Homo sapiens: one gene and its partners. The protein of the gene in region 5 purifies or fractionates together with the protein of the main gene of each other region. This does not show direct contact. Each region holds a gene or a part of one and is shown on either strand. Other genes may lie near its edges. The genes, in order: AP2A2, PIK3C2A, TNRC6A, REPS1, PRR12, AP1G1 and TNRC6B.

Region 1 (4,452 bases), on a different chromosome or scaffold from region 5:
GCCGCACGCTCACGTCCCGCTCAGTCTGGGGAACAAGGCACAGAGTAAGAGGTCGCAGGAGCAAGGCACAAGCTTGGGGACAGGCTGGGGACAGGCTCGGCACCCGCATCTCAACACCCACTCTGAGTTTCCCTCACATGCACATCCAGGTCCAGGGAGCCGACCTGCACTCGGGCCACGTGTGTCTGGACAGCCCGGAATAGAGTTCCGCCTGCTGGCCCGGCCCTCCCGCACAGGCCAGCTTCGCTAGGACCCAGCGCACTGCCTGGATTCTGCCCGCTCGTCCATGCCTCCCTTGCCCTCCACAAGGGCCAGCTTCGCTAGGACTGAGCGCACTGCCTGGTGCAGGCCATCAAGGACTCCCTTCCATGCAGCCAAAGACCCCACTGCCTCGGACACGGAGCTGCCCCAAGGCAGGTCCTCACGCCCCACCCCAGAGCCCGTGCTGATGGGCCCCCAGGAGGCTCTGCAGCACGAGAAAGCCCGAGCTCTGCTCCCAACAAAGGCAGGAGAGTGGGCACCACCAGCGCTAGCACTGGCCGTGTGCAAATGAGTGTCCAGCCCTTCTGACAATAGGGATTGACTAAAACAAACACCAAAACCAGGACCAAGAAGAATCCAGAATACCAAATGCCCACCACGAGCCCCTTGCACACCACCCGGAATATCTGTGAGCTGCACGCAGACGTGCGGGGGACTGGGAGCAGCCCTGCCACAGCCTGAGGCTGAGCCAGATGGGGGACATGCAGCTCCCCGCCTCCCACTCCCTAACGCATGTGCACCGGTGACTAGGGACTTGGTGGACACACCGCAGGGTCCCCTATGTGGAACGAACCCTCGGGGTCGCTCTGGAGACTCGCAAAGGCTGGCAATGGCCAACCTCAACTGGGCTCTTCCAACTCTGAAATTTTTTTTTTTTTTTGAGACGGAGTCTCGCTCTGTCGCCCACGCTGGAGTGCAGTGGCGCGATCTCGGCTCACTGCAAGCTCCGCCTCTTGGGTTCAAGCCATTCTTCTGCCTGAGCCTCCTGAGTAGCTGGGACTACAGGCACCGGCCGCCACCACGCCCGGCTAATTTTTTTTTGCATTTTTAGTAAAGACGGGGTTTCACCGTGTTAGCCGGGATGGTCTCGATCTCCTGACCTTGTGATCCACCCGCCTCGGCCTCCCAAAGTGCTGGGATTACAGGCGTCAGCCACCGCGCCCGGCCCCAACTCTGAAATTTTAATCCCCGAACAAAGTGAGTTTCCTTTGTAAAAGGGGGATTTTCTTGGAGATAAGGGAAAAAAATTTCATCTTTCTACCAAGAAGAACCATTTCTACTTGTCAGCACTATGCACGCGCAGGATGGCACACGGGGGCTGCCCCCAGCAGGGAAAGGGCTGCCAGAGACTCCTCTGCTCAGCCTAACCAGGACAGCAGGGCCAACCCGGCCATCTCCAGGCAGCATGGCCCTCAACAGTGGTGTGACCTCCCAAGAGTAGGTGACAGGCGGAGGCCAGCAGCACCAGCACCACCTCCATCTCTGCGGGGAGTCAGGAGGCACTGCGTACCCCCAGCCTTCACAGGAAGACCCACGGCACCTGCTCAGGGAGTGAGCAGAACCCAAGGACAGGGCACTCGCCTTCAGGGCGTTGATGACCGTCTCGATGTGCGTCTTGACAGCCTCATGGGAGAACTCAGAGCTGGCCAGCGTGCACATGCTCTCCAGGGCCAGGTAGCGCAGGTTGGTCTCGCGGTGCTGCAGAAACTGGCCCAACTGGTTGCAGGCACGGACGAGCAGGTTCGGCTCACTGTGTGGAGGGAGGGGAAGTGGGTGGGGTTTCCTCAGCAAGTGCAACACAAACTGGACAGAGTCTGCGTTCCCCGACGGGTCCAGATGGCAGACAGCAAAGTCACACGGCACTCACCGCCACCACACTGCTCAAGTGGGAACTCGGGGGCCTCCCCAGATGCAGATGACGCCCGACCCCCACCCCTGACATCCATTTTGTGTCCATCCTGTGCATCCCCACAGTGAGTCAGCAGCCCGTGTGTCCACTGGAGCCTTCCCAGCACCTCCTGAGCCTCAATCTGCATCAGGCCCGCGGGAGGCCGGTCAAGCTGTGACCGGCAATGGGGTCTCAGCCAGAGGCACCAGCCCAGGGCAGGGAGAAGGCCGAGAAGGCCGGGAGCGCGGCTGCTGCCCCACTGACTCTACTGTCTCCTCAGGATGTGGCTTCTCCTCACATAACAACAGAGCTTTCTCCAAAATGGGAAATTTCAGTTTTAATAACTCTCAGTTCTGAAGTGTGACTCTCAGACTGAGTTTTCATCATTTGTAAAAATGCTGTAGTAGCAAATGGGTGGTGTTCACAAGCTGTAGAGAGCGTCTGCCCACAGCCTGGCACGTGCCCTCATTATTGGGAGCCTGGTGAGAACTGCGATCTCATTCTCACAGGACCCTAAAGCATGGCCCCACACGCAAGACCCACGCCAGACCACATGTGGTGCGCCGCAACTGCTGAGCAGAGAAGGCGTGGGAGCAGAGGAGGCAGACCCTCCAGGCTGTGTGGAGCGACCGCCACCCTGCGCCTCTGCGCTTCGTGGATGGGCACAGACGTTTCCAGCACTGCCCTGCGACCCTGGACCCACCAAGTGCGGCTCCACATCCAGCAAAGCCACGGGACATGCGCGCACACCCCCCACCCCACCCGTCTCCTCTCTGTTCCACTACATGAGAAGCCAGTCAGGAGTGGGGATGCTCAGGGGAAGGAGGAAAAGGCCCTCGTGTGGGATGAGACCACAGTCACCAAAGCAATCCACGGTGAGCTCAGAGCAGGAGGGGCCGGGCTGCACAGAAAGAAAAAAAGCATCCGGCAGGGAGCACAGAGGCAGGACGAAGGGGAGGCCCATGGAGTGGACAAACCAGACATGATCCGCCCAGTCTCGTGCCAACGAGAAGGAACGTGTGTGTGTGCGCGAGACGAAGCCTCTCCACAGGCAGCCGACACACCTGTCATGGTGAATGATTAAGCTGATGGCCTCGAAGAGCACGGCATTCTTCGCGTTGGAGTGCTGGACCTTCTTCGACTTGGGCGGTTCTTGGGCTTTGTTCAGGATGGTCTCCAGGCACTCAGTCAGGCGGCCTCGCACTGCAGGGTCTTCTGGGCAAGACAGAACGGTGCTCACCAGTCTCCAGTGGCCCGCAGCCCACCCTGCCCCTCCCGGCTGCACCCATACATCATGAGAGCATTTTTAATATAGTTCATTCACATTTGTGTACCCAGCTGGAAGCATTTACAAAACTGAGACAGGCCGGGCACGGTGGCTCACTTCTGTAATCCCAGCACTTTGGGAGGCCGAGGCAGGCCAGTCACCTGAGGTCAGGAGTTCAAGAACAGACTGGCCAACATGGTGAAACCCCGTCTCTACAAAAACGCAAAAGTTAGCCGGGTATGATGGCAGGTGCCTGTAATCCCAGCTACTCAGGAAGATGAGGTGGGAGAATCGCTTGAACCCGGGAGGCAGAGGTTGCAGTGAGCTGAGGTCGCGTCACTGCACTCCAGCCTGGGCAACAAAGGGAGACTCCATCTCAAAAAGAAAACCTGCACAAATCTGATACTATAAAAGCACAAATAGACCCAAACACTAACAAAACTGTAGGCTCTGCAATAACTGCTCCACGAAAGCCAGCGCATACAGCAGCACTGGCAGAAAGGTCCATGAATCAAGAGACAGGGCTAGTAACACACTTCTTAAAATAACAAACAAACCACTTAAATCTGAGACAGGGAATCAGACTGGCACTGGTGCAGCTTCAGGAGCCGCGGCCTGCGCGTTACCTGGGGGTGGGTAGCACTGCAGCAGTCTCAGCAGTTTGACAGACAGCCAGGGAGCCGGGACAAAATAGTAAGTGTAATCCTGGAGATCTGTGGATGCAGACGTCACGATCTGTAAGACAGCACAGGCAATGAGACACGCTGCCGGACACGAGCCCCTACTGCGGGGACCCAAAGAAAAGCCATACTCACTCCTCGGGTCACGCCTGAGCTGGAAAAATGGTTTTGTTTCATGTGCCAAGAGTGTCTGACACTGCTTGGTACCCCCTGGGTTCGCCGTGAGAGGGCTGCACTGTCACTCGGCAACACGCTGCCGCAGCTGAGTGGCAGCCCTCGCTCGGTACAAGACACCATAGCACCTGGATTTGAAACTACAGTCTTTCCTTTGTGGACCGGCACGTGAATGAAATCAGAGAGAGAGCTTTAGCCTCCTCAGAAGGAAGAAGCACCCCCACCCCCAGAAGCCGGCATTCTGACCCTACCCCACAACCCCACAGGGCCCCCCGACCACAGGCCAACCCAGATGGTGAGCTCACGGAGGCAGGGAGACTGCCCACCTCACTCACATCCCATCTCTGTGTCCAATGCGGCCTTTGGCTTGGCAGATCCTCCGTCAACCTCCTGAACAAGTG
Region 2 (4,408 bases), on a different chromosome or scaffold from region 5:
AAGTGAGTGAAAACTATGTACTAATTATTTATCAAATCAGGAAAAAAATCAGAAACGAAGTGCCAGGGAAGCATATAAAGTTAAGGCACCATTATTTACAACATCAGTGATTGGCACTTATTCTGAAAAAGGCTTTAAAGACATGAATAAAAAGCAGTATTACGTTTTTCCCTACTTCTATAAACTACTTAGTAGTTCTTAACTTAGCTATCTATTATTTGTGCTTTGTTTTTCAGCTCCATGAATAGCAGCTGGATTTTACGGTAACATCCTGCATTTTTCCTTTACTTTGGTGTTTGTGAACATTACACAGTGGTAAAGGCTATAAAAGGTGCATAACAGGAAAACACATATGCTTTGCCTCCTTATAGAAAACAATGCAAAATAGGTGGCTGAACTGACATAGTACTGTCTCAAAGTCTTTTTCAGGAATTAGTATATATTAAGTTTAGGGTTTGTAGCATTCTACATAATGACTTTAAAACAGCAATGGCTTCCAAAAATTCAAAAAGGTTAGTTATGTGACTGTTGGTCCAACAGATGTGTTGAAATGCAGCAAGTATATTTAACTTTATAAGTTCTGTCCAAGTATAAAAATACTATACAAAATTAACAAGTGTGTGTGTGTGTGTCTGTGTGTGTGTGCATGTATGCATGCACGTTTATAACTGTTCATGCTTCCAAAGCTCAAACATTCACTAGTTTACAAGTATGTTGCCGCAGTCAGCTGATACCATTTAACCGTCTCTTTGCTCAAGTTGAAATCTTTCAAAGGCAGGGTTACTCCACCCAAGAAAAAATTCTCCCGCAGAGATTCTGCACTGAGTACACTTAGTTGAAGTTCTCGCTGTCTTAGGGTTTCTTTGCTATATCCACTGTATACAAGCTACAACAAAGGAAAAAAGAACAGTAAATCACAAATTAAAGTTTGTTTGGTTTCTTGGAACATTTCAAGTGAAAACGTGAGAATATTAGCCAAAGAGTGACCACAATGAGTGACACTGATTATGACACATCCGGTAGGTTTTGTCTGAATACTTTAGAAGGACATTTTGTGTTTCAGGAGTCTTGGATTGTACTATCATTCCTGTGATGTCTGACATAGAGAGATACAAAGCAAGACTAATCATTAGCTAAAAAATAAAAACTAGAGGCCAGGCATGGTGGCTCACGCCTGTAATCCCAGCACTTTGGGAGGCTGAGGCGGGTAGATCACCTGAGGTTGGGAGTTTACAACTAGCCTGACCAACATGGAGAAACCTGTCTCTACTAAAAATACAAAATCAGCCAGGCGTGGTGGCACATGCCTGTAATCCCAGCTACTCAGGAGGCTGAGGCAGGAGAATCACTTGAACTCAGGAGGCGGAGGTTGCAGTGAGCCAACATGGCTCTATTGCACTCTAGCCTGGGTAACAACAGCGAAACTCTGCCTCTAAAAATAAATAAAATAATATAATAATAATAATCATCTAAGAGGTGGAGTGATCTAAGACAAACTGAATAGTCTGGAAGTAATTAAGCACAGACTAGACAACCACTTTTTGTGACTATTATAGAGGGGGGTTCACACACTGGAAACGTAGTTGAATTATGGCTCCTAAGGTCTATGAGGGCTCTATTTTATATCATTTTGTTAAATACTATTGGACTGTTATTGGTGTACACTGTATAACAAATAGTTCAGCAACTGATACCTAAAAACTTAAAATTTTTTTTTTTTTGGGACAGGGTCTCTCACTCTGTTGCCCAGTCTGGAGTGCAGTGGCATGATCATGACTCACTGTGGCCTTGACCTCCTGGGCTCAAGCAATCCTTTGACCTCAGCCTCCCGAGGAGCTGGGATTACAGGTGCGTGCCACCATGCCTAGCTAATTTTTTTCTTTTTTTTTTTTTGTAGAGATGGAATTTCATCATGTTGCCCAGGCTGGTCTCAAACTCCTGAGCTCAAGGGATGTATCCACCTCGGCCTCCCAAATTGCTAGGATTACAGGCATGAGCCACTGCGCCTGGCCTTAAAATGTTTTAAAATTTAAAATCTCAAAACAATGGACACAGAGAAGGGGACAACACACACTGGGGCCTGTTGGGGGATGGGATGGTGGGAGGGAGAGCATTAGGAAAAATAGCTAATGCATGCTGGGCTTAATACCTAGGTGATAGGTTGATAGGTATGCAGACCACAATGGTACGTTTAGCTATGTAACAAACTTGCACATCCTGCTTACGCACGTCAGAACTTAAAAATGAAAATTAAAAAAATAATAAACCAAGGAAACTTCTAGAAATGATTTTAACTTACCATTTCATTGAATGTCGGATTCCTCGTTTTTCGTGAAATTTTGGTTTTACGTTTGGATGTTTTGTGGTTATCTGGAAGTAGGTATGTTTTGACATATGGATTTGGGTCAGCTCCATCTTCAGTAACCTAAAAAGAAAAGCAGTCCCTTAATAGTAATGCTTCCTACCAAGGTAAGGGTTTCCTCTACAACCATCATTCTTTGTAATCACTCACAAGATCTTTGATATGCATCACCATGATGAAAAGAGTACCATTTCGGTAAGAGATGGATAATTTCACAGCTCCTCCTATTTGGCCTGGAGTAGGACTGAAGGAACCTGCATCTGAAAATACAAATATTTTCATCTTTATTTACTGGTTGTAGTGGTTCAAGCTGCAATAAAAGGATTTTGCTTTATTTTCAAGACTGTCACATGTGGTGCGGACAGAAGGGAGGGGAAAAAGGAGTAAACAACCTGATAGGTCATTGATTTATACTTCTTTAGTAATCACATCTATTAGGAAAGTTATATTTATTCAGAAATAGACTGGCTTAGAAAGAATACTCTCCTCCCATTCTCAGACTACAGCTAGTAAGCCTGCTGTCATTCTACCACATTCATCGAGAAGTTACAGACTTGCAGATCATGAGTTACCAATAAAGAGAAAAAAAATAATCTCACCTGCAGACCTAGCTATCCCTTCAGCTTTCTCATCACGAAGTAAAGGGTGGAAGAAAGTACAAACAAGATCACACTAAGAATAAAGAGAAAGCAATTCATTAGTTTAAATATTATGTAACACAAAAGGTATAAGATGTTATTACTTCTCATTTAGTAAGGTTACCTCTGCTACATCCGTTGAAGCATTCATCAAACTCTGTAAGTAACTGTTTAACTCAATTTTCCTTTTGGCTGCTACATCTTTTATGTGTGTTCTTCCTAGAACCATCCTATTAGGAAAGCTACAAAAGAAAAACAAAAACAAGTGGGATTTAAATAAGTACAATATTTCCTTAGAAATACACTTTTTCATATATACTTAAAGACAAAGTAGTCTTAATCCATTATAAAGTAATATTTTGTGGCCGGGCACGGTGGCTCATGGCCTTTGGGAGGCCAAGGCGGGTGGATCACTTGAGGTCAGGAGTTTGAAACCAGGTTGGCCAACATGATAAAACCCTGTCTCTACTAAAAATACAAAAATTAGCGTGCTGATGCCTATAATCAGATACCTATAATCCCAGCTACTCGGAAGGCTGAGGCAGAAAAATCACTTGAACCTGGGAAGCGGAAGTTGCAGTGAGCCGAGATCACTTACACTCCAGCCTGGGTGACAGAGCAAGTCTCCGTCTCAAAATAAAATAAGTAATTTTTTGTGATTTCTCTTCAAAGTATTGGAGATGACATCGTTCAGTCACCCATTATCCTTTTATGAGCCTTGGTTGAAAAGGTGTATGTGTTGATTTCCTATATTTATTATTAGCTTGGTGCAAAAGTAACTGTGGTTTTTGACATTAAAAGTAATGGCAAAAAACGCAATTACTTTTGTACCTACTTAATACTTATTTTCTAATATTTCTTCTCAAGTTTAATCACTCATAAATATTTTATCCAGATCTGATCCCTAAAAAATAAAATCACTACTCAATCAGCCATAAATATTACATATACCAGTAAAATCCACAAATAATAACATAAGGCCTAAGTAAGGTGCTGAAAGGATAATCTTAATTCCACTTATTTTGGTGGCAGTGGAAAAATGAAACTGTACACGGAAACAAACTCTAATACCCACTTCACCTCATCCTCACTTTTGAAATCTAGTCTGAAGAAAATATGAAAAAACTCGACACAGGAAATCTACTGGTCATTGAGCTACATTAAAACTGAAGACTCCCAAAGGGTATCAGATACAAAACTAAGATTTTGATTGACAGTCTCGATGATGTTTGCTTGTTATTTATTTTTTTGAGACGGAGTCTCGCTCTGTTGCCCAGGCTGGAGTGCAGTGGTGCCATCTCAGCTCACTGCAAGCTCCACCTTCTGGGTTCACGCCATTCTCCTGCCTCAGCCTCCCAAGTAGCTGGGACTACAGGCGCCTGCCACCATGCCCAGCTAATTTTTTGTA
Region 3 (4,452 bases), on a different chromosome or scaffold from region 5:
ACCACACCTGCAGTTATTCCTGACTCAATGCTCCTAAGGAACTTGGTATTATTAAACTATTATAAATATTAACTTTGATATTACCTATTATATTGTACTAAAGCTGCTGACATACTTTCGTTCACAATGAACAATTCCAGGGCAAGTAATTTTACGTATATACATACATACATACATTCAACTGTAAGCATGTATGTACATTGTGTCTATGTATTCCAGGTGCTAACATAGCCTTGGAAAGCAGAAGATACTCGATTAATATTTGCTGGGTGAATGGATAATACTAAATAAGATGAAAACGGCATTTCTAAAAAAAATTTAATTGCTGAAAAGACAATACTGTTAAATCCATATGACTTACACATAGCAATAAGCTATATAAAGAAATGTGTCCATATATAAGGAATTGATAGAAATAAAATTATGGGCCAGGTGCAGTAGTTCACACCTGTAATCGCAGCACTTTGGGAGACCAAGGCAGATGGATCACCTGAGGTCAGGAGTTTGAGACCAGCCTGGCCAGCATGATGAAACCCTGTCTCTACTAAAAATACAAAAATTAGCCGGGCATGGTGGCTCAGGCCTGTAATCCCAGCTACTCAGGAGGCTGAGGTAGGAGAACTGCTTGAACCCGGGAGCAGAGTTTTCAGTGAGCTGAGATCATGCCAATGCATTCCAGCCTGGGTGACGGAATGGGACCCTGGTAGAAGTTTTAAATGTCCTAAGAACATATCAAATTAAATCCAGTAAATGTTAATAAGTGTAATAATATAAGAATAAAATCACTTAGAAAAATGTAAAAAGCCAAAGAGAAAATAATTTTTAAACATGTATCATCTGATCTCTCCTTTATAAAACAGAGTAGAGGTAAATTCTGCTTTTCATCTGAAAGTCTCTTATTGTAACTAAGACTTAATAACAACTTTTTTTAAATGAGGAAAAGTTCTAAGATAATTTGGCTTTGAAAACACATTTAAAATAAAATAAAGGCCTAAATCTAGTATTCTGCAGGTGTGTGTGTTTTTTTTTTTTTTTTGGTAAGATGTATCTTTTGTACCATGTTTGCTGGAGTTTTGATCCAAAGATGTGTTCACAGAAATGCTGTCCACTGTCGTCCACTTCCTTAGTCTTGACTGTGGCTCTTTAATACTGTTCATATCCATATTTACATTCAAGTTTGAGTTCAAGCCTGAAAAATTAAAAAACAAAACAAAACCTTAGAAAATACAGCACATTTTCTTTCTAGTAGCACAACTTCTATTTCCTAGAAAAACATGTAACTAATGTTTTCAAACCACATAACTGTTAATACTATAATTTAGTTATACGTAGAAAATATTTCTCCATAAAATTTTGATGATTTATTTAAAACTCCTTGGCAAAATAAGAGGGAGAAAAGTTTTAAGGAAGCCAGATGTATAAGTTTACTTGGAATAAAATGTATCTGTTTAGCTATTTCCCAAGTGTACCTATGCATGAAGATCTGTGGTCACTTTCAGTTGCTATCTTTTGCTTGCAAATTCTAAAGTAAAAATGTCCTGTACTAGCAATTACACCTAGGCTGGGGACAGATATATCTTAAGGCACAATTTACTTGACCTTTGCTGATGAGGCCCCTCAGACTTGGATATTCTCTTGGAACAAGAATGGAAATTTCAACCTTAGATACAGTGGTCAGAAAACTATTAAGCTAGTTTTTCTTAAAAGAGTAATCTAGGGACTATTAATATTAGAATCACCTAAAACGCTTGTTTAAAAATGAAGACTTTCCAGTGGGAGCCAGAATCTTTGTTTCACAATTCCCAAGAGGTTCTTATTCTAAAGTTCCAAATTAAATTGTTTTAAATTCTCTGGTCTGATGAGTCCATGTGATGTTAAGGTCTGTCAAACCTGAAAACTTTAATAATACAAATTCTCTAATACCATGCGTATTTTTGCAGAGAGCAATTAAATTTGCTACTCTTGGACCCATCAATCGGATCAGGAGTTGACAATTTTTTTCTGCAGAGGTTCAGCCGGTATCTCAGGCTCTGTGGGCCACATGGTCCCGGTGTCTCCATGCAACTCTGCTGGTGCAGCACGAAAGCAGCCACAGACCCCAGGTTAGAGAAAATGTGGCTGTGTCCAACAAAACCTTACAACAGCAGGCAGTGGGCCAAATTTGGCCAACAGGCCATAGCCTGTTGCCGAACTTAGATAACTGTATTGGTATTTGCATGGGCTAAGCAGACTTTCTTAATCAAGAAGTATCCCTCACTGAGAAGCTGGCCAGGGCAGGAAATCCTATGCTTAGAACTTATGTGGCCAATTTATATGTCAAGTGTGCAGTCAAATAGGAAGAGCCAGCTCCCTTCACTGATGAGACAAAAACTTCTCCCTGTACTTGGGTATCATTCTTTTACTACTAACTGTTGTCTCTGACATCACCTGGCCACCACTAAATGGCTTCTTCAGTATTCACCCACAGTAGTAACTGACAAGGGAACTGTTTTTGGAAATGCAGAGATCACTAACAATCCTAAGGACTCAAAGTACAATTTATGTCCCAGGTGAGAGTCTGTGGTAATACCAGGCTGAGCCAAACCAGTTCAGTCACAGAGTGAGGCAGCAGCAGGGGCAACAGCATGCCCCAGCCTCTGCCCACAGCCCAGAACAACTAGTTAACTGATGGTCTTCAAACACTCTGGCTAACAACCAGCAAAGCTGGTTTACAAGAAACCACTGTATAGGAAAAGAGAGAGAAAAAAAGCAAAATAAACAGGGCATGAACAATCAATGGTTAAAATATAATCAAGGGCACAAGAAAAAAAGAGACCTAGGAAAGAAACAACATATAAGCTCAAAATCTCTACCCAGTGAATAAAAGCCTGGAGATAACAGAGAAAAAAGAGTGGGTGGGGGTGGGGAGTTGCATGTATAAGAAAGGCAATCTCCTTTCTTACCTCCATTTTTAAATTTATATCAGTAATCATTTATACATAGTTAGACAGTAGTTAAAACTTCAAGTTCTGAGAGCTAGCAAATGTGACTGTGACCATCCCCAGCTGTTTCACCAAAACAGCACTGCTCAAAAATTCTCTGGTGTACTGTTTCTAATAAGAACATCAGCCTTCCTTCCCACCCTTAATATCCTACTTAAGATTAAGACAGCTAGTCCTTTAAAAAGTGAAATGTTTCCTTTATTCTAATGCACTTTAAACGAGTGTGGAGTTTTTGAAATAGTGTGATTTTGAAGGCTGGGCATGGTGGCTCATGCCTGTAATCCCAACACTTTGGGAGGCCAAGGCAGGCAGATCACCTGAGGTCAGGAGTTCCAGACCCACCCGGCCAACATGGTGAAACCCCAAATCTATTAAAATACAAAGATTAGCTGGGCGTGGTGGTGCGCGCCTGTAATCCCAGCTACTCGGGAAGCTGAGGTGCGAGAATCGCTTGAACCCGGGAGGCAGAGGTTGCAGTGAGCCAAGATCTCACCACTGCACTCCACCCTGGGTGACAGAGCAAGACTCTGTCCTAAAAAAAAAAAAAAAGAAAAGGAAAGAAAAGAAAAATCGTGATTTTCTTGAGGAGAGAGACCTTCCCTGAATGTGGAGCAGGTTAAAACTAGGAGAGGGGATGGCAACTCTCTGAGAGGGAACAGCTAAGAGATCAATGTAGCTTTCATGAAGGAACAGAGCTGTAAGGGTACGTGTGAAGGAGGCACGCCTGTGATACCTAAGCATCAGTCCAATACTTGGGCCAAGGAGAAACCCACCTATAGGGAAGTTGCTGAAAGCATTTATTGGTGATGGCCCTTTTTGCAGCTCAGGTGTAGTGTGGGGCATGACATTGTCAAGGAAAGACTTCATGGCTGGCTGATGGAGTGGCTGCTGCTGAGATGGTGGAGTCTGCTGCTTCACCAACAGGTTTGGATCAAGTTGACGAGATTGTTGCATCATTTGCTGCTGCACACTAAGAGGTCGACCCTTAAAACAATGAAATGATTGGAAAAAATTACTGGGGGAAAACGTCTTTACAGAAAACTACATATTCCTCTCCATTTTTGAATTCACTTTCGTCTCAGCAGAAAGGTGAATAATCACTGTATAATGTTCACATAACTCATGGGCAACCAGCAGACTTAATGAAAAACATACTGCATTACATCTTAGTAAGATTGTTTTAAGAAAGACATTTCTGAATCTCTTGCTACAATGGAGATAAGCAGAGTTTATTAACACAAAGACAGCATTGCGAGTTGCAGGGCGGGCTCTACCTGCTGGTCTTGCTGCGGCCGGTTCCCAGAAGGCACGCTTCTCTGACTCTGCGCCCTTTGCTGCTGCGCTAACAATCGCTAGAGGAAAGATAGCGAAAAGGTTGTTACTATCACACCATTACAAAGTGTGTGCTTCCAAATGACGACAGCAGATGGACCTACAGAGGCACGACGTGATCTAGCCAATGCCAACATGT
Region 4 (4,452 bases), on a different chromosome or scaffold from region 5:
TCTAGGAATCTCTGACCTAAATTGCTGAGCATAAATGTGGAGTTGGAGAGACCAGAGGAATTCTGCAATCTCTTTCTTATAGGTCATAGCCATGGAAAATTTCCTACTAGCTCCCTTTTAAAACCTACAACTTTCTGCCGTGCCCATTAGGGGACTGGGCTGCATCTAGGAGGGTCAGAGTGGGCATGTAGAGGTGTGCACAGGGTACCGTACTCACTCCCCTGGGTGGATGCCTCCCTTCTCCCAACCACGAAGACTTCCCAGACTAACCACTTAGAGGTTCGGTGCAGTGGCTGCATCCTCACCCCGTCCTCCTCTCCCTCACACATTTATGACCTGCATCCTCGCCTGTCCTCCTCTCCCTCACACATCTATTACATAGCTGCATCCTCGTCCCCTCCTCCTCTCCCTCACACATCTACTACCTGCATCCTCACCCCATCCTCCTCTCCCTCACACATCTACTACCTGCATCCTTGCCCCGTCCTCCTCTCCCTCACACATCTATTACCTGCATCCTCGCCCCATCCTCCTCTCCCTCACACATCTGTTACCTGCATCCTCGCTCTGTCCTCCTCTCCCTCACACATCTGTTACATAGCTGCATCCTTGCCCTGTCCTCCTCTCCCTCACACATCTATTACCTGCTCTCCCATCTGCCTTTCAGTAGCAGAGAAGGCTCATTTAATAAAGTTCCTTCAAGTTTCTTATCATCATCTCAGTTTTCTTGTCAGAATATTTAACATTTTATTCTGATTTGGTACATATTCTATATTTATGCATAATTACATGTTATGTAGAATTAATAGTGATAAACATATTCATTTTTAGGCTGAAAAAGCTTCTGATCCTGCAAGTTCTCTTCGAGTTGCCAAAACAGATAGTAAAACTGAAGAAAAGACAGCTGCTAGTGCTCCTGCCAATGTGGTATGCAAAATGTCTTTTATAATAATAATTTTGTACATCATAAGTAATGTGAAATAATTTTTAGAAATAAGGTCAGCCAGAAATCATCTAACCCATTTCTCTGCCTTTAACTGTAGTATAGTCAGTCTAGCTCAGAACAAAGTCTGCCTATTTAATGGAGATGATATTCTGTAATCTATGTTAAGTATGTGTCACAGGTTCTCAAAATTTAAGTGGTTATTGCATTCTTCCCACTATATAAGGTAGAACTTCTTTATAGGTGAAATTCAGTTTCTTTTATTGTAGTCTTCAATATAATAAAGAAAAATTATCAGCCCTCTAAGGTTGTTATTATTCCCTGTTCTCTTAACTTGTTCTTTAACTGTTTTAGGTATAATTTTTTCCCCCAACATTTTATTATGAAAACGTTTAAGCATACAGAAAAATTGAAACAATTTTTCATTGTACATCAGTAAATTCACTACTTTATACCATTATTATTTTAGGATACTTGCTTTACTACATATCTCTCCATGCCATCTGTTCATCTGTCAATCCTTATATGTTTTATGTCTGTGTTAGTCCGTCTGCATTGCTATAAAGGAATATGTGAGACTGGGTAATCTGTAAAGAAAAGAGGTTATGCCGGACACAGTGGCTCACACCAGTAATCCCAGCACTTTGAGAGTCCAAGGCAGGCGGATCACTTGAACTCAGGAGTTTGAGACCAGCCTGGGCAATGTGGCGAAACCCCGTCTCTACAAAAAGTACAAATATTAGCCGTGTGTGGTGGTATGCGCCTATAGTCCCAGCTACTTGGCAGGCTGAAGTGGGGGGATCGCTTGAGCCTGGGAGGTGGAGGTTGCTGTGAGCTGAGATAGTGCCCTACACTCCACCCTGGGTGACAGAGTGAGACCCTGTCTCAAAAAAAGAAAAGAGGTTTATTTTGCCTCATGGTTCTGCATGCTGTACAGAAAGCATGGTACCAGCATCTGCTTCTTGTGAAGCCTCAGGAAACTTAGAATCATGGCAGAAGGCAAAGTGGGAGCCGGTGTGTCACATGGTGAGTGAGGGAGCAAGGAGAGATGCCAGGCTCTTTAAACAGCCAGCTCTCATGTGAACTCAAGAGTAAGAACTCATTCATTACTGTGAGAAGGGCACCAAGCCATTCACAAGGGATCTATCTCCATGACCCAAACACCTCCCACTAGGCCCACCTCCAACATTAGAGGTCACATTTCACCATGAGATTTGGAGGGGACAAATATCTAAACTATATCAGTGTACTTTAGATTGCAAGTATCAGCACACTTTCCCTTTGAGGGAATAATTTTGGTAACTTTTTTTTTCTGTTATCTAGACATTCCCAATAGTTATAAAAACAGCATGTGTTTCTGAAGTGCTTAAATTCTACTTTCTGGACACTGTGTGTGTATTAGTCTGTTTTCACACTGCTATAAAGATACCACCTGAGACGGTAATTTATAAACAAAAGAGATTTAATTGACTCACAGCTCTGCATGGCTGGGGAGGCCTCAGGAAATTTACATTTATGGCGGAAGGCAAAGGGGAAGCAGGTGGCAGGATAGAAAAAGAGTGAGGAAGTGCCTCACTGTAAAACCATTAGGTCTTGTGAGAACTCCCTCACTCTCATAAGAACAGCATGGGGGACCACCCCCATGACCCAGTCACCTCCCACCAGGCCCCTCGCTTGACACATGGGGATTACAATTTGAAGTGAGATCTGGGGACACCGAGCCAAACCATATCACTATGTTTTATTACATTAGTAGTCCTGTGAGTTTTTAAGTAATGAACTTTATTTTTGTCAACTCACAGTAACAAATTAAAAATATCACTTAACTAAAGAGATAGCAGTTGACTATTGTTTTTATTTATTTACAGGTAAATCAAGTTATGGTAAATGCCAAAATGCTGTTTTTTATTCTGCCAAGGGCAGATTCATAATCACCGACAAACTGTCAACTCATTTTCAGAAGTTATAATTACTGTGCATATTAATAATGATGTTTTTGGTTTTTTAAAGAGTTGCCTAGCTTTCCATTACTTTATAATGTTATTTTATTCACTAAGATGAATGTTAGTATTTTTGAGTAAGAAATCCTATGGTGATAATGCATAGATATTTCTGGAGACTGCCTTTGTTTATTGTTGAACAGGTATATATTGATTCTGTATCATATTTATGTTAAAACTGTGAATATTACAGTCTTGCATCAGTATGTTGCTCTAAAAATACTTATATTGCAGGTACATTCATGATTGTGGTGTCAACTAGAAACATCTTTTCTCACTGTAATTTAAGTTAGCTCTTGCCACAAATATATAGATTTAAAGTAGGACAAGTAACTTTCAATTTTCCAAGAGCAAATGGCTTAAAGAAAGCAAATGGTGTTGCAAAGTGCTAACTATGAATGTCTTCAAAAATGCTTATTATTAATGGAATTCTTGTCTTAAAGAGCAAAGGCACAACACCACTTGCTCCACCACCTAAACCTGTTCGAAGAAGATTAAAATCAGAAGATGAATTAAGGCCAGAAGTTGATGAACATACACAAAAGACGGGTGTCTTAGCTGCTGTTCTTGCATCACAACCTTCTATTCCCAGGTAATCAAAGCTATTCCTAGACACATTTAATTACTAGGAAGAAAAAGCACGACAATTAAAAGTAATCAAACTGGCCCAGGCGTGGTGGCTCACACCTGTAATCCCAGCATTTTGGGAGGCTGAGCTGGGCAGATCATTTGTGGTCAGGAGTTAGACCAGCCTGACCAACATGGTGAAACCCCATCTCTGCTAAAAATACAAAAAAATTAGCCGGGTGTGGTGGTACACACCTGTAGTCCCAGCTACTCGGGAAGCTGAGGTAGGAGAATTGCTTGAACCCAGGAGGCGGAGGTTGCAGTGAGCCGAGGTGGCACCACTGCACTCCAGCCTGGGCAACAGAGCAAGACTTCATCTCACAAATAATAATAATAACAATAATCAGACTGAAGTAAATTATGGTCAGACTAGTTCTTTAATTGAGCAGAGCCTCCTCATGTACGGGTAGGTATTCTTCCCATGTTTCCCCCTTTATTAAGTTGAATTCAATGCCATTTTAACACCCTGTTTTCAAACCCCGTAGCAGTACATTTTTTAAACTTGATAGTTTATAGTAAAACTGGTATTTTAATTATGGTGTTCTAGACCAGGAATCAGCAGATTAAGTCTTAATGGGCCAAATTCAGCCTATGGCCTGTTTTTGTATAGCCCATGAGCTAAGAATGACTTTTTCTTTTTTGTAGAAGAGAGAAGAAAAAATAGAAGAGAAAAGAAAACAAAAAACTAGAATATGAGACAGAAACTCTTTGGCCCACAAAGCCTGAAATTATTTACTATCTGGTTTTTTACAGAAAAGGTTTGCCAGTACCTACTTTAGACTCTTTTACTTAAATTCAGGTGATTCTACAGAAGAAGAATTTTTTTAATAATTTCTTTTTTTTTTTTTAACCTTTCCTATAGTGCTGAAGCTTATATACTAC
Region 5 (4,452 bases):
ACCTCTGCCTTCCAGGTTCAAGTGATTCTCCTGCCTCAGCCTCCCGAGTAGCTGGGACTACAGGCGCGCACCACCATGCCCAGCTAATTTTTGTATTTTTAGTAGAGACGGGGTTTCACCATGTTGGCCAGACTGGTCTCGAACTCCTGACCTCAAGTGATCCACCCACCTCAGCCTCCCAAAGTGCTGGGATTACAGGCATGAGCCACCATGCCTGCCCTCTGTGAGGTTCTTAAAAAGCCTGAAGAAGGGAGCTGGCAGACAGGGGAGAGGTTAGCAGTCTGCATACTGGTGAGCAGGCCAAGGAAAGGACAAAGATGGTCCTGGAGGGAGGAGGATGAGGCCTTGGAGGAAGAGGAGGTGAGGAAGTAGAGTTAGGGAGGTGATGATTTAGGAGTTGGGAGGGTCATTCAGGAAGAGGAGTTAAGAACCAGACAAGGGCTTTAAGACCACAAAGAGACATTCCAGGACTGAGAAGGGGATTAGGGATAGGAGACAGGTCTCCTTTGCAGCCGCAGGAGCCAGAGTAGGTCTCTGGAGAGACTCTGATAGGGTAGAAGGGACACTGGGAGCTGAGTGGTAGTTACAGAGGGGCTTTTGGTATAGAAAGCAGTGTTTAAAGGACAAGAGGAAAGGTGCCAGGAATGATGAATAACATCCAGGCCTGATGTCCCTGTCTCCCCCAGAGCCCCCGCTGCTGGAGGAGAAACCCCCACCCACTCCACCTCCTGCCCCGACTCCTCAGCCTCAGCCTCCGCCACCCCCTCCGCCGCCACAGCCAGCCCTGCCCTCGCCACCCCCGCTGGTGGCCCCCACGCCCAGCTCACCACCGCCACCGCCGCTGCCGCCGCCACCTCCACCAGCCATGCCCTCGCCTCCACCACCACCCCCACCAGCCGCTGCCCCACTGGCTGCTCCTCCTGAGGAGCCCGCCGCCCCGTCTCCCGAAGACCCCGAGCTGCCGGACACCCGGCCCCTGCATCTGGCCAAAAAGCAGGAGACGGCGGCAGTGTGTGGGGAGACGGACGAGGAGGCCGGCGAGAGTGGCGGAGAGGGCATCTTCCGGGAACGGGACGAGTTCGTCATCCGTGCTGAGGACATCCCTTCCCTCAAGGTGAGTCCCAGCCTTCTCCAGAAACTGGGCCTGATGGGTTTGGTCACCTGTTTGTTGAGTGCCCGCTGGATGACAGGCTTGTGCTGAGACCTGCAGATCCAGTCGTGGCCGGGCCGCCCTGGAATTTGCAGTCCTATGGGGCTGATAGAGGTGTCGAGGACCTGCGGGCCTCAGAGGTGTTATTTGCGTTTGTGTCTGTACATGCATTACCTGTATATAAGGTAAAGCGATTGTTAACGCGTATGTGTCTATATGTGCGTTACCTGTATATAAGGTGAACCGCTTGTTAATGTTTATGCAGATACCCTGCTGTGGGTGGTAGAGGACCAGTACTGTACAAGCAGATGAGGCTCTGGCCCTAGGGAGCTTCTAGTTTAATGGAACCAGCCAGAGAGGCGGGCTGCTTTGCCATTTATGGCACAATGGTGGAAATGTGTCATTGACATAGACTACCTGCAGATACACACTTATGTAACCTGTAAATATAATCATGAATTGGGCCGGACGCGGCAGCTTACACCTGTAATCTCAGCACTTTGGGAGTTTGAGACCAGCCTAGGCAACATAATGAAACCTTTTCTCTCAAACAAACAAAAAAAGTGAATCATTTAGGAATGGTTATTGTGTGTCAGGCCATATCTTTTTGTTTTTTTGAGATGGAGTTTCGCTCTTGTCCAGGCTGGAGTGCGATGGCTCAATCTCGGCTCACTGCAGCCTCTGCCTCCCAGGTTCAAGCGATTCTCTTGACTTGGCCTCCCAACTATCTGGGACTACAGGCGCAGGCCACCACACCCGGCTGATTTTTGTGTTTTTAGTAGAAATGGGGTTTCACTGTGTTGGCCAGGCTGGTCTCGAACTCCTGACCTCAGATGACCCACCTGCCTTGGCCTCCCAAAGTGCTGGGATTACAGGTGTGAGCCACTGTGCCTGGCTGGCCATAGCTTCAATATTTACCTTAAATACTTAAATACGTAAATGCAGACCAACAGCCTGTTCACTGCTTCCAGTTTGTCTACCGCAGGAGCTTGAAAACTATGGCCCCTAGGCCAAATCCAGCCCACTGCTTGTTTTTGCAAATAAAGTTTTATTGGCACACAACCATGCCCATTCATTTACATGTTGTCTATGGCTGTTTTTCCCATATGGCAGAGAGCTGGGTAGTTAGCTGGCCCTCAATGGCAAAAAATATCTCTGGCTCATCATGAATAAAGTTTGCTGGCCTCTACTGTACTGGGTTCACTGGACAAATAGAGTTGGATCAGAGGATTAATGTGCAAGGCACTTGACAGGGGTAGGTGTTACCAGGTGCCCATGGAGTGCTCTGCACAGGGCATGCGGCTGAGCAGGTGCTCAGGAGGTCAGCCCATTCTCACCCTGATGGTGGCATGGACGCCAAGGCCATTCTCCATGTCAATCATTGTCATTGATTGTACTGATTATGATACAGGATTATTGTTTGGCCCTTCGTGTACAGTGTGACATTTAATCTTGGCGGGGCATGGCGGTTCACGCCTGTAATCCCAGCACTTCGGGAGGCCAAGGCAGGTGGATCACTTGAGGTCAGGAGCTTGAGACCAGCCTGGCCAACATGGTGAAACCCCGTCTTTACTAAAAATACAAAAAATTAACTGGGCGTGGTAGGGCGCACCTGTGATCCCATCTACTCGGGAGGCTGAGGAAGGAGGATCACTTGAACTCTGGGGTGGAGGGGGGAGGTTGCAGTGAGCTGAGATTGTGCCACTGCACTCCAACCTGGGCACCAGAGCAAGACTCCATCTCGAAAAAATAATAATAATAATAATTTAGTCCTGGATGTTGTTTTAATTTAATCTTCGATGTGACATGGAGAAATTATGGGAAGAATTAATTATTAATTATAAGGATAATAACTATCATTACACTTTTTTCTTTTCTTTTCTTTTCTTTTTTTGAGACGGAGTCGCCCAGGCTGGAGTGCAGTGACGCAATCTCGGCTTACTGCAACCTCTGCTGCCCGGGTTCAAGCGATTCTCCTGCCTCAGCCTCCTGAGTAGCTGGGATTACCAGCAAGTGCCACCACACCTGGCTAATTTTTGTATTTTTAGTAGAGAAGGGGTTTCAGCATCTTGGCCAGGCTGCTCTTGAACTCCTTACCTTGTGATCCACCCATCTCGGCCTCCCAAAGTGCTGGGATTACAGGCATGAACCACCGCGCCCGGCCTTACACTTTCTTCTTAAGTGTGTTTTTTGAGGCAAACTCAAATGTATTTTTTCCTGTGTTATTTCAATCTATTTCATTGTGGGAAAAGTAAATAATAGAGCAGGCCGGGAGTGGTGGCTCACACCTGTGATCCCAGAACTTTGAGAGACTGAGGTGAGAGGCTCACTTGAGGCCAGGAGTTTGAGACCAGCTAGGCAAATAGCAAGACCTCACATCTACCAAAAACAAGGGAGCGAGACTGTCTCAAAAAAAAAAAAAAAAGGATATTGACATCGTAGGCCAGGTGCGGTAGCTCACACCTGTAATTGCAGCACTTTGGGAGGCCAAGACGGGCAGATCACCTGAGGTCAAGAGTTCAAGACCAGCCTGGCCAACATGATGAAAGCCCATCTCTACTAAAAATACAACAATTAGCCGGGCATGGTGGCAGGCGCCTGTAGTCCCAGCTACTCAGGAGGTTGAGGCAGGAGAATTGCTTGAACCTGGGAGGCGGAAGTTGCAGAGAGCCAACATCACGCCACTGCACTCCAGCCTGGGCCAAAAGAACAAAACTCTGTCTCAAAAAAATAAAGAAAAAAAGAATATTGACATTGTTAAATGACCGTCACCACCATCCATCTCCAAGTTTTATCTTTTTATATAAAATAAACTTGATTATAGAGACTACTAGTAGCGTTTTACAGGGATGGAAACTGAGGCTCACACAGGTTAAAAAGTCCTTCTGATTGGGGATTTCTATGCCCGTTTTTTCTGAGACAGGGTCTCCCTTGTTGTCCAGGCTGGAATGCAGTGACGTGATCTCAGCTCACTGCAACTTCTACCTCCCTGGTTCAAGCAATTCTCATAACTCAGCCTCTCGAGTAGCTGGGACTACAGAGGATCCCACCATGGTTGGCTAAATTTTGTATTTTTAGTAGAGATGGGGTTTCACCATGTTGGCCAGGCTGGTCTCAAACTCCTGACCTCGGGTGATCCACCCGCCTCGGCCTCCCAAAGTGCTGGGATTACAGGAATGAGCCACTGTGCCTGGCCTATTCTCATTTCATAGAGAAAGAAACCAAGGCACAGAGAGATAAAGTAGCCTTCCCAGGCTTTTGTAGCTTGGGATCCACACCCAGCCCTGCTGGCCCTAGGAATC
Region 6 (4,452 bases), on a different chromosome or scaffold from region 5:
GTTACAGATACAACACAAATGTTCCAGTTAGAAGGAATTCAAACGGAATGCCAAGGTCCAAGCCAGGCTCAAGAAATAAAAAGGGAGGTTTGGAGTAATAGATAAGATGACTCCAATACTCACTCTTCCTAAGGGCAAAGGTACTTTTGATACAGAGTCTGATCTTTGAAACTGGTGAACTCCTCTTCCACCCATTACCATAGTTCAAACAGGCAAGTTATGGGCTTAGGAGCACTTTAAAATTTGTGGTGGGAATAGGGTCATTAATAACTATGAATATATCTTTTAGAAGGTGACCATTTTGCACTTTAAAGGGAATCAATTTTGAAAATCATGGAGACTATTCATGACTACAGCTAAAGAATGGCGAGAAAGGGGAGCTGGAAGAGCCTTGGAAGTTTCTATTACAAATAGAGCACCATATCCTTCATGCCAAATCTCAACAAAAGCTCTTTTTAACTCCATCTGTCCAGTGTTTACAAATAAACTCGCAAGGTCTGACCAGTTCTTGGTAACAAACATACATGTGTGTGTCTGTGTGTATACAGCAATGCACAGAAAAGGCTACCAGGAGCCTAATGCCTCTTTCAAACATTGGGGGAACCAGTAGAAAAAGGCAGGGCTCCCTAATGTCCATTATTACATTTCCATTCCGAATGCCAGATGTTAAAAGTGCCTGAAGATGGTAACCCAGCTAGTGAGGAATAAATACCCCACCTTGCCCAGTCCACAGAGAAACAACAGTAGAAAGAAGGGGCAACTCTTTGCTGCAGAGACAAAGTGAGTGTTTTTTCGCCATGGATTGCAGTCCTCTCCTCCAGACCAGCTGCTTATTTCCTCAGGGGCCCAGGGAATGTTGATTCTGGCTGTAAATGTGGGAGGGGTGGAGAAGTGCGGAAAAAGGAGAAGAGGAAGAGTGCAAAGTAGCCTCCAGAAGCAGCCAGCCTCAACAGTGGAGGAGAGGACATTAGTCTTTAACAATGCTTCAAGGTCAGCAGTAACTTTAGGAAAATCCTCCTCAGCAGTTCTCTTCAGCTCCTCATGCCCGTGGTACAGTTGGGGGGGACTTGCCAGCAATCACAACCTCCTTCCCAGAGTTCCTTTGATTGAGTGGGATAAAGAATGAGAATGGTGCCAAACCCTCATTGCCAGGACTGAGGGGGAAAGTTGTTCACCTCTGCTAGATCTTGCATTGCTGAGCCCTTGTGATTATATGTAAGCTTGATCCGCATTCGCAGCTGTTGCTATAAGAGGAAAAGAGAAGTGCAAATTATATACTGAAATGAAATCTCCAGAATCTGTCCGGTCCACAAATAGACTTTTAATCTTAGAGGTCAAAACTTAAAGCAAAGCTGTCTGTTAAGAATGACAGGTAAACAACAACAAAAAACACCCAGTACTCTAGGCTTGAGCCAAGAAGCTAACAATGTCATGCCACCAAGTTGAGAAAGCGCATCTGCAGAATACACGGTTAGCTTTAATCCTTGAACTGCATTAAAAGGACAGAACTCCTTGGGAGCATTTTTTCTTTTCTTTTCTTTTGAAACAGGGTTTTGTTCTTATTGCCCAGGCTGGAGTGCAGTGGCACAATCTTGGCTCACCGCCACACCAGACTAATATTTTTATTTTTAGTAGAGACGGGGTTTCACCATGTTGGCCAGGCTGGTCTTCAACTCCTGACCTCAGATAATACACCCACCTCAGCCTCCTAAAATGCTGGCATTACAGGCGTGAGCCACCATGGAGCATTCTCCTAGTAACATTTTGCTGAGTCCTTTTCAAAAAGATTCAAACCTTGTATCCAAGTCTCTTAAAAAATGAGGTGAACATATACTCATCGTACGCTCTCCATTCAGATACACTGTTGCTTTATCTGAAAAACCTACAGTAAATGTGAACATGACCTTTTGTTCCTAAAGCATAAAATTTTAAAAAATGACTTAACTCACAGGTAACAGCAGTAGTTTTAAGAGAACTCAATTAGACACTTTTTGTATGGCAGATTTCAAATACAAATGCACTAAGACATTTTTTACTCTCTGTATCAGATGGTCAAAGGAGTTTGTGCTTGTACTATAGAGGCCGATGCTCAAAATATAGTGAATAGCAGAGGAAAGGCAAGTGTTACAAGAGAAAGAAAGTATACTGTTACTTATGAGCAACTAGTAGAGCTCTATTAAAGAAATTCTCTGAACCATTTTCAAAAACTGAAAACCAACTGATTACTATTAAGGTGAGCTTATTTCTTTGAGAAGAGATAATAAAAATATTGCTTAATTTCAGTTTCTAAAGCTATTTTTCATTTGGCTGCTTCATTTAAAATGCCTCTATTTTTCTATTCATACTTAATAACTGTAGCAGTAAATGTAGGTATTTGGTTTCAACAAATGCTCTTACCTCAGATTTCAACTTGTGTATAAATTAAAATGTCTAAGCTTCTCCCCTACCCCCAAAAACCAGACCTTTAATCTAGCTTTTTTTGAAGTTGCATTTTAATAAGATGCCACTAAGCCACCTGATGTCTCTGGGTTCCATTTGTTATTTACAAAAGAGCAAGGAAGTTAGACCAGGCATTTTCATTGATCTCTTCTCTAACTATGAGTCAGAAAAACCTAAAGAAACAAAGCAGAATTTTATTTCGGGAAATATGCTTACACTTCGGCTCAGATATTGGCTACAAATGTGCTACTCACCTTCTGAGGGTTCAGAACTTTAATGACTTGTGTGATGGTCCCCGTGTTAAATGCTGGGACAATGCTGCTGCTAGGAGACAAGAGCTGCAGCTGGAATGTCTAGGGGGGAACAAAGGGCACTCTTCAGAAAAAGAATTACACAACGCTAGGTCAGAGATACCAAAAACCATTTAGACACCCAGATGATGGGTCAAGCAACAGATTTCACTACTACTAAGTTTTGCCTACTACTTGTTTTCTAGATATCAGGAATTCACAGCACGTGAGTTGACTCCCTGTGGTATTTGTAAAAATCCACTGTTCGGTTCTTTGATCATGACAACTAGTAATAAACCACATTCTCCTTTCTGGCAGAAGGAATTCTAGCCTACCTCTTTTCAAAAGCTGACCAATTCTTCTTCTGGCAACTTCACTTAATGGTAACTGATCAACTATGCAAGTAAAATATCGGTGCTTTTGGCTTAAAAAACAGCCAGAAAGAAATGAAAAGAAAAGCTTCCCAAAAATAGCAAACCAACATACTGGTCACCAACTATAAGCTTTTAGGCTTTTGTGTGATTGGATAACTGGGATGCAGAGACTTGAACTTTTGTTTTTTAAAGCCTGCATAATCTATAATGTGTCAGAGCCTCCTCTCCACATGACAGAAGGAACGGAAAGACTTGCAGAACCAGCCTATACAGCAAAAGACCTAGATAAGCCAAACAGTATTAATTTGTTGAATGCTGGTGGGGTTTATTTGCTTGCTTATAGAAATAAGAGTTGAAAGTGCTGGCTGGGTGTGGTGGCTCAAGCCTGTAATCCCAGCACTTTGGGAGGTCAAGGCGAGCGGATCACGAGGTCAGGAGTTCGAGACCAGCCTGGCCAACACAGTGAAACCCCGTCTCTACTAAAAATACAAAAATTAGCTGGGCATGGTGGCACATGCCTGTAGTCCCAGCTACTCGGGAGGCTGAGGCAGGAGAATCGCTTGAACCCAGGAGGTTGTGGTGAGCCGAGACTGTGCCACTGCACTCCAGCCTGGGCAACAGAGCAAGACTCCGTCTCAAAAAAAAAAAAAAAGTGCTATATAGGGCAAGCTAGGTAAACCATACTGTACTACGTAGCTATTGTATGAACTAGCATTTGAAAATCTTTCCTAAAAGTAGATTAAACTTCTAAAATATTTGAGAGAGAGAGACACTAGTCTTCTCTAGGGCCAAAAGTTGCAAGAGTGAAGATTCACTCTCAATGTACAGATATATTACACTGGGGGCTGGGCACGGTATTCCCAGCACTTTGGGAGGCCAAGGCGGGCAGATCACCTGAGGTCAGGAGATCTAGATTAGTCTGGTCAACATGGCAAAACCCCATCTCTACTAAAAATACAAAAATTAGCTGGGTATGGTGGCGCATGCCTGTAATCCCAGCTACTCAGGAGGCTGAGGCAAGAGATTTGCTTGAACCCAGGAGGCAGAGGTTGCCTGGGTGACAGAGTGAGACTCCATCTCAAAAAAAAAAAAAAAAAAAATATATATATATATATATATATATATATATGGTCTTATTCATAATTCTGCCACATTAAAATTATGTAAGCTAAAGTATTATTCATTACTACCATATTTCATTAAATGTAAGATACCAATCGTAATTCACACCATTATTTTATGTACCACTGAGATAGAAAACATGCTGCCCACTGAATTATGACAAGATACCAATTTTTAAATGTATCCTAATTTTAGAAACATTAAAACACGAAATTAGTACATAGTAG
Region 7 (4,452 bases), on a different chromosome or scaffold from region 5:
AATTTCTTCTAACTGTAGCATCTCATCCCCTAGCAAGGCCCAGGTGAATCTGACAGTCTCCCAGTGGGGTTCATTGTAGCCACAGGAAGGGGCTGTCTGTGCACAAGGGGGAGGGTTGGGATGCTCCTCTTCCTGCTGCTGGAAGTGCTGCTGATAACCAGGACTGCTGCCTCTGTATATAGGATTATATATTTATATAATACCATATTTATGATTTATATTATACAAGCATAGGCTTTATAGCATCCACTGACAAGCAACACGAGCTAAAAACCCAATATAAATAACACACTGACCCCTTTAGAAAAATGAAGACATGCAAGTGAACCTTTCTTTTAGAGAGATAAAGCTAAACTTCTAACAAATGTTTCTTACAGAAAAGATAAGAGAGGTCTAATTTTTAATCATAGGATTCATAACATCAAATTTAAGACAGGCTACAGAAGATCACAGGGTAACTGTCTCCATCAACTGGTAGACTATGATGGTTTAGCCCTTTCTTCCGCACATTACACATTTAACTTACCCACAGAAAGGATGTGTGCTATAACTACAGATGATCCTGAAGAGTAGAAGACATTTTTAGAATCTGAGGAAAAGTGGTTTTGTGATAGAAGAGAGGTGATCCTGAGGTTGGGAAAGACACATGAAAATCCTGAATATACTGCTAAAGGATCTCTTTGTGCCCAGGGTCTGATTAACATCTTCTTGCAGCATTTTGGGTCTATTTCAAGTCTACTAGATTACATTTCCCATGATGATACGACTGATTTCACAATAGAAATAATGATAAAAACAAAATTTTCATAAAGCTAACTATTTTAATGAGGTCGAGGAGATTCATGATTTTTAAAATGTAGTCAAATTACTACATATACACACATGTGAATTTCCAGAATAGAGCTAATATCACATTCCCTTATGTGGCACTGTAAGAGTACTGAATATAATGTGATAAACTTAACAGAATTTATCTTCTTGTTTGAATTTTGGTCATTCCAGAAATGTTCATTATTTAATCAAAAGATAATCCCTTAAATCTGCTTCTATATGGTAGAAAAGAGATGTTGGAACATTTTAAAGAAAGTTACAAAAGTAAGTGTAAACAGGCACCTGAATTTAGCAACAGTCAATGAGACATTCCATAGCCTCAGTCCACAGAGTTCTGCTCATTACTGTGACCACACATCACCAGCTGGATCAAGTACAGCTTAGATTTTAGATTTTCAATGATTCTGAATAAGTGTGACGTTCTTCATTTAAAAAATTGAAGTGAAATTTATGCCAGGTTTAAAAAATCTGAAATGCTCTTATGTGGAAGAGAGACAACGGCAAAGGAAGGTGCAGAAGGATGAAGTCACTGGGCAGCACAGATCGTGTTCCACATTAAAAGCCAGGAACTCTTGTTTTAAATTATACTAACAAGTAGAAATGCAAGCTAGATATGGTGAGCACATAGTCACTGGGCTAAAAGAGCATCACATCAAAATTATAATTCTGTCCAGATACTAAATTTAAAACAAAATTAACTTATGATTTTTAATTCACCTTAAACATTTTAAGAAACGCCAAGCCAAGCCACAACCGTTTGCTATTAACTAATTATTTAACACTCAAGGTCCTGAATCTCATTGAATCAACAGCTTAAAACTAAACAGCCCTCACCAAAATGTCAGATTCTCAAATCTGACATTTGACAAACATTTAACAAAGAATCCCGGCCGGGCACGGTGGCTCACGCCTGTAGTCCCAGGACTTTGGGAGGCCAAGGCGGGTGGATCACAAGGACAGGAGTTCAAGACCAGCCTGACCAACATGGAGAAACCCCATCTCTAATAAAAATACAAAAATTAGCCGGGCGTGGTGGCGGGCGCCTGTAATCCCAGCTACTCGGGAGGCTGAGGCAGGAGAATCGCTTGAAGCTGGAAAGCAGAGGTTGCAGTGAGCCGAAATTGCACCACTGCACTCCAGCCTGGGTGGACAAGAGTGAAACTCCGTCTCAATTAAAAAAAAAAAAAAAAAAGGATCCCTCAAAAATGAAAAGCTTCACACTTACTAGGCTTCATGGCATTGGGAGCGTTGGCGGGCGTGTTCCCCCAGCCTGTGGTCGATGCTCCTGTATCATCCATCTCGCCCCACCCAGGACTGCTTTCATTTGGCTCACCCCAAGCGGAAGTACCATTATCTGGAGCAGGTGGTGTGCTTTTGCTCCAGACTATAAAGAAAGGAAATGTCTCTAAGAATCATTTGTTAAATGAAATGCCATAATATCCAGTGGGGTGAAGGTGGAAGGAACAGGCATGCCTATATTCTGTTGGTAGAAATGTAAATAGATTCAACTTTCATGTGAGGGGTATTTGGCAATGCTACTTTTTAAAAAATCCGATGCACATTAAACTTTTCACCCAGTAACTCAACTGCCAGGAATTTTTTTTTTTTTTTTTTTTTTGAGACAGAGTCTTGCTCCATCCCCAAGGCTGGAGTGCAATGCCGTGGTCTTGGCTCATGGCAACCTCCACCTCCCAGGTTCAAGCGATTCTCCTGCCTCAGCCTCCCGAGCAGCTGAGATTACAGGCGTGTGCCACCATACCCAGCTAACTTTTGTATTTTTTTTTTTAAGTAGAGACAGGGTTTCACCACATTGGCCAGGCTGGCTTCAAACTCCTGACCTTGTGATCTGCCTGGCTCAGCCTCCCAAAGTGCTGGGATTACAGGCATGAGCCATCATGCCCAGGCTGCCAGAAAATTATACCATAAATATACTTGTAAAAATAGGTGAAATTACATGTATAACAATACTCACCGCATCACTGATAGAAAAAATTTGGAAACAACCTAAATATCCACCACAAGGGGACTGGTTAGACCAATTGTGGGTCACCCATAAAAGAAGTACTGTGTAAAGGCCAGGCACAATGGCTCACGCCTGTTATCCCAGCACTTTAGGAGCCAAGGCGGGTGGATCTCCTGAGGTCAGGAGTTCAAGACTAGCCAGACCCACATGGCAAAACCCCATCTCCAGCAAAAAATACAAAAATTAGCTGGGCGTGACGACGCATGCCTGTAATCCCAGCTATTCGGGAGGCTGAGAAGGAGGCTCACTTGAACCCGGGAGGTGGAGGTTGCAGTGAGCCAAGATTGCGCCACTGCACTCCAGCCTGGGAGACAGTGAGACTCCCTCTCAAAAAAAAAAAAAAAAAAAAAAAAAAAGAAATACTGTATATGAAGCAATTAAGCAGCAGACTATGTGCTAAAATTGGAAGCTATAAGTATAATGAGAAAAGCAAGGTGAAGAACAGTATACGAAGTACAATCCCTTCTCTGTAAAATTTTTGAATGGGACACAAACTTCTAAGAGATTACCTTTGGGAAGAGACCCTAGGGGTTAAGATTATTATTATTATTATTATTATTATTATTTTTTGAGACGGAGTCTTGCTCTGTCGCCCAGGCTGGAGTGCAGTGGCGTGATCTCAGCTCACTTGCAAGCTCCATCTCCTGGGTTCACCCCATTCTCCTGCCTCAGCCTCCCGAGTAGCTGGGACTACAGGTGCCCGCCACCACGCCTGGCTAATTTTTTCGATTTTTTAGTAGAGGCGGGGTTTCACCGTGTTAGCCAAGATGGTCTCGATCTCCTGACCTCATGATCTGTCCGCCTCGGCCTCCCAAAGTGCTGGGATTACAGGCGTGAGCCACCGCGCCTGGCCAAAGATTATTTTATTGACTATCTTTTGCTTTTCCACACAGTTTGAAGGTTTTTGCTATGTGGATGTAGCTTTTTAAAATTTTAGCAGGTTTTATTCTGCATGGGGAGCCAGTGAGAAATCTTCATTTCCTTCCTCATTCTTTTCAATACTTGAAAAAAGAATGAGTTAAAAGTAATCATTTTTCTAAGAGGCCACAAATGGATTAGCTGAACACTAGAGGTGTACTCGGAGAAAACTGATTCTTGGCTGGGCACAGTGGCTCATGCCTGTAATCCCAGCACTTTGGTAGACTGAGGCGGGTGGATCACCTGAGGTCAGGAGTCTGAGACCACCCTGGCCAACATGGTGAAATCCTGTCTCTACTAAAAATACAAACATTAGCTGGGCATGGCAGTGGGTGCCTGTAATCCCAACTACTCAGGAGGCTGAGGCAAGAGAATCACTTGAACTTGGCACGGAGGTTATAGCGAGCCGAGATCGTGCCACTGCACTCCAGCCTGGGCAACAGAGTGAGACTCTGTCTCAAAAAAAGAAAACTGGTTCTTAATATTAATTTTAACTAAAAAAAGACTGAAAGGTGCATCCCCCTTAATTTGTTGAACTATATGCTCTATAGGGACATTCAAGTTGACAATGACAAACTAAGAATGGCATTACCATTGCTACTTTTACCAGGTATGATGTTTCCTATTCAAATAGTGACGGAAGAAAGTTTAATTCTGGGCAACTGACTATCCTAACAATC

Evidence for each region.
Region 1: the proteins of PRR12 (region 5) and AP2A2 purify together in Homo sapiens (affinity purification with mass spectrometry, with the first as the bait; one large-scale study listed by BioGRID). This does not show direct contact.
Region 2: the proteins of PRR12 (region 5) and PIK3C2A purify together in Homo sapiens (affinity purification with mass spectrometry, with the first as the bait; one large-scale study listed by BioGRID). This does not show direct contact.
Region 3: the proteins of PRR12 (region 5) and TNRC6A purify together in Homo sapiens (affinity purification with mass spectrometry, with the first as the bait; one large-scale study listed by BioGRID). This does not show direct contact.
Region 4: the proteins of PRR12 (region 5) and REPS1 purify together in Homo sapiens (affinity purification with mass spectrometry, with the first as the bait; one large-scale study listed by BioGRID). This does not show direct contact.
Region 6: the proteins of PRR12 (region 5) and AP1G1 purify together in Homo sapiens (affinity purification with mass spectrometry, with the first as the bait; one large-scale study listed by BioGRID). This does not show direct contact.
Region 7: the proteins of PRR12 (region 5) and TNRC6B purify together in Homo sapiens (affinity purification with mass spectrometry, with the first as the bait; one large-scale study listed by BioGRID). This does not show direct contact.

The regions. Positions count from the first base shown.
Region 1 is NC_000011.10:984,125-988,576, reverse strand, and holds part of AP2A2 (AP-2 complex subunit alpha-2), read right to left. Parts: intron 3,933-4,452; coding exon 3,824-3,932; intron 3,146-3,823; coding exon of another isoform or gene 3,143-3,145; coding exon 2,995-3,142; intron 1,793-2,994; coding exon 1,624-1,792; intron 26-1,623; coding exon 1-25. UniProt on the Homo sapiens protein: Component of the adaptor protein complex 2 (AP-2). Adaptor protein complexes function in protein transport via transport vesicles in different membrane traffic pathways.
Region 2 is NC_000011.10:17,089,035-17,093,442, forward strand, and holds part of PIK3C2A (phosphatidylinositol 4-phosphate 3-kinase C2 domain-containing subunit alpha), read right to left. Parts: intron 3,243-4,408; coding exon 3,125-3,242; intron 3,035-3,124; coding exon 2,962-3,034; intron 2,623-2,961; coding exon 2,513-2,622; intron 2,426-2,512; coding exon 2,300-2,425; intron 887-2,299; coding exon 704-886; 3' UTR 1-703.
Region 3 is NC_000016.10:24,806,087-24,810,538, reverse strand, and holds part of TNRC6A (trinucleotide repeat-containing gene 6A protein), read right to left. Parts: intron 4,334-4,452; coding exon 4,256-4,333; intron 3,966-4,255; coding exon 3,755-3,965; intron 1,190-3,754; coding exon 1,058-1,189; intron 1-1,057.
Region 4 is NC_000006.12:138,907,751-138,912,202, reverse strand, and holds part of REPS1 (ralBP1-associated Eps domain-containing protein 1), read left to right. Parts: intron 1-831; coding exon 832-927; intron 928-3,386; coding exon 3,387-3,535; intron 3,536-4,452. UniProt on the Homo sapiens protein: May coordinate the cellular actions of activated EGF receptors and Ral-GTPases.
Region 5 is NC_000019.10:49,600,805-49,605,256, forward strand, and holds part of PRR12 (proline-rich protein 12), read left to right. Parts: intron 1-686; coding exon 687-1,114; intron 1,115-4,452.
Region 6 is NC_000016.10:71,731,916-71,736,367, forward strand, and holds part of AP1G1 (AP-1 complex subunit gamma-1), read right to left. Parts: intron 2,793-4,452; coding exon 2,694-2,792; intron 1,245-2,693; coding exon 1,143-1,244; 3' UTR 1-1,142. UniProt on the Homo sapiens protein: Subunit of clathrin-associated adaptor protein complex 1 that plays a role in protein sorting in the late-Golgi/trans-Golgi network (TGN) and/or endosomes.
Region 7 is NC_000022.11:40,267,885-40,272,336, reverse strand, and holds part of TNRC6B (trinucleotide repeat-containing gene 6B protein), read right to left. Parts: intron 2,216-4,452; coding exon 2,057-2,215; intron 1-2,056.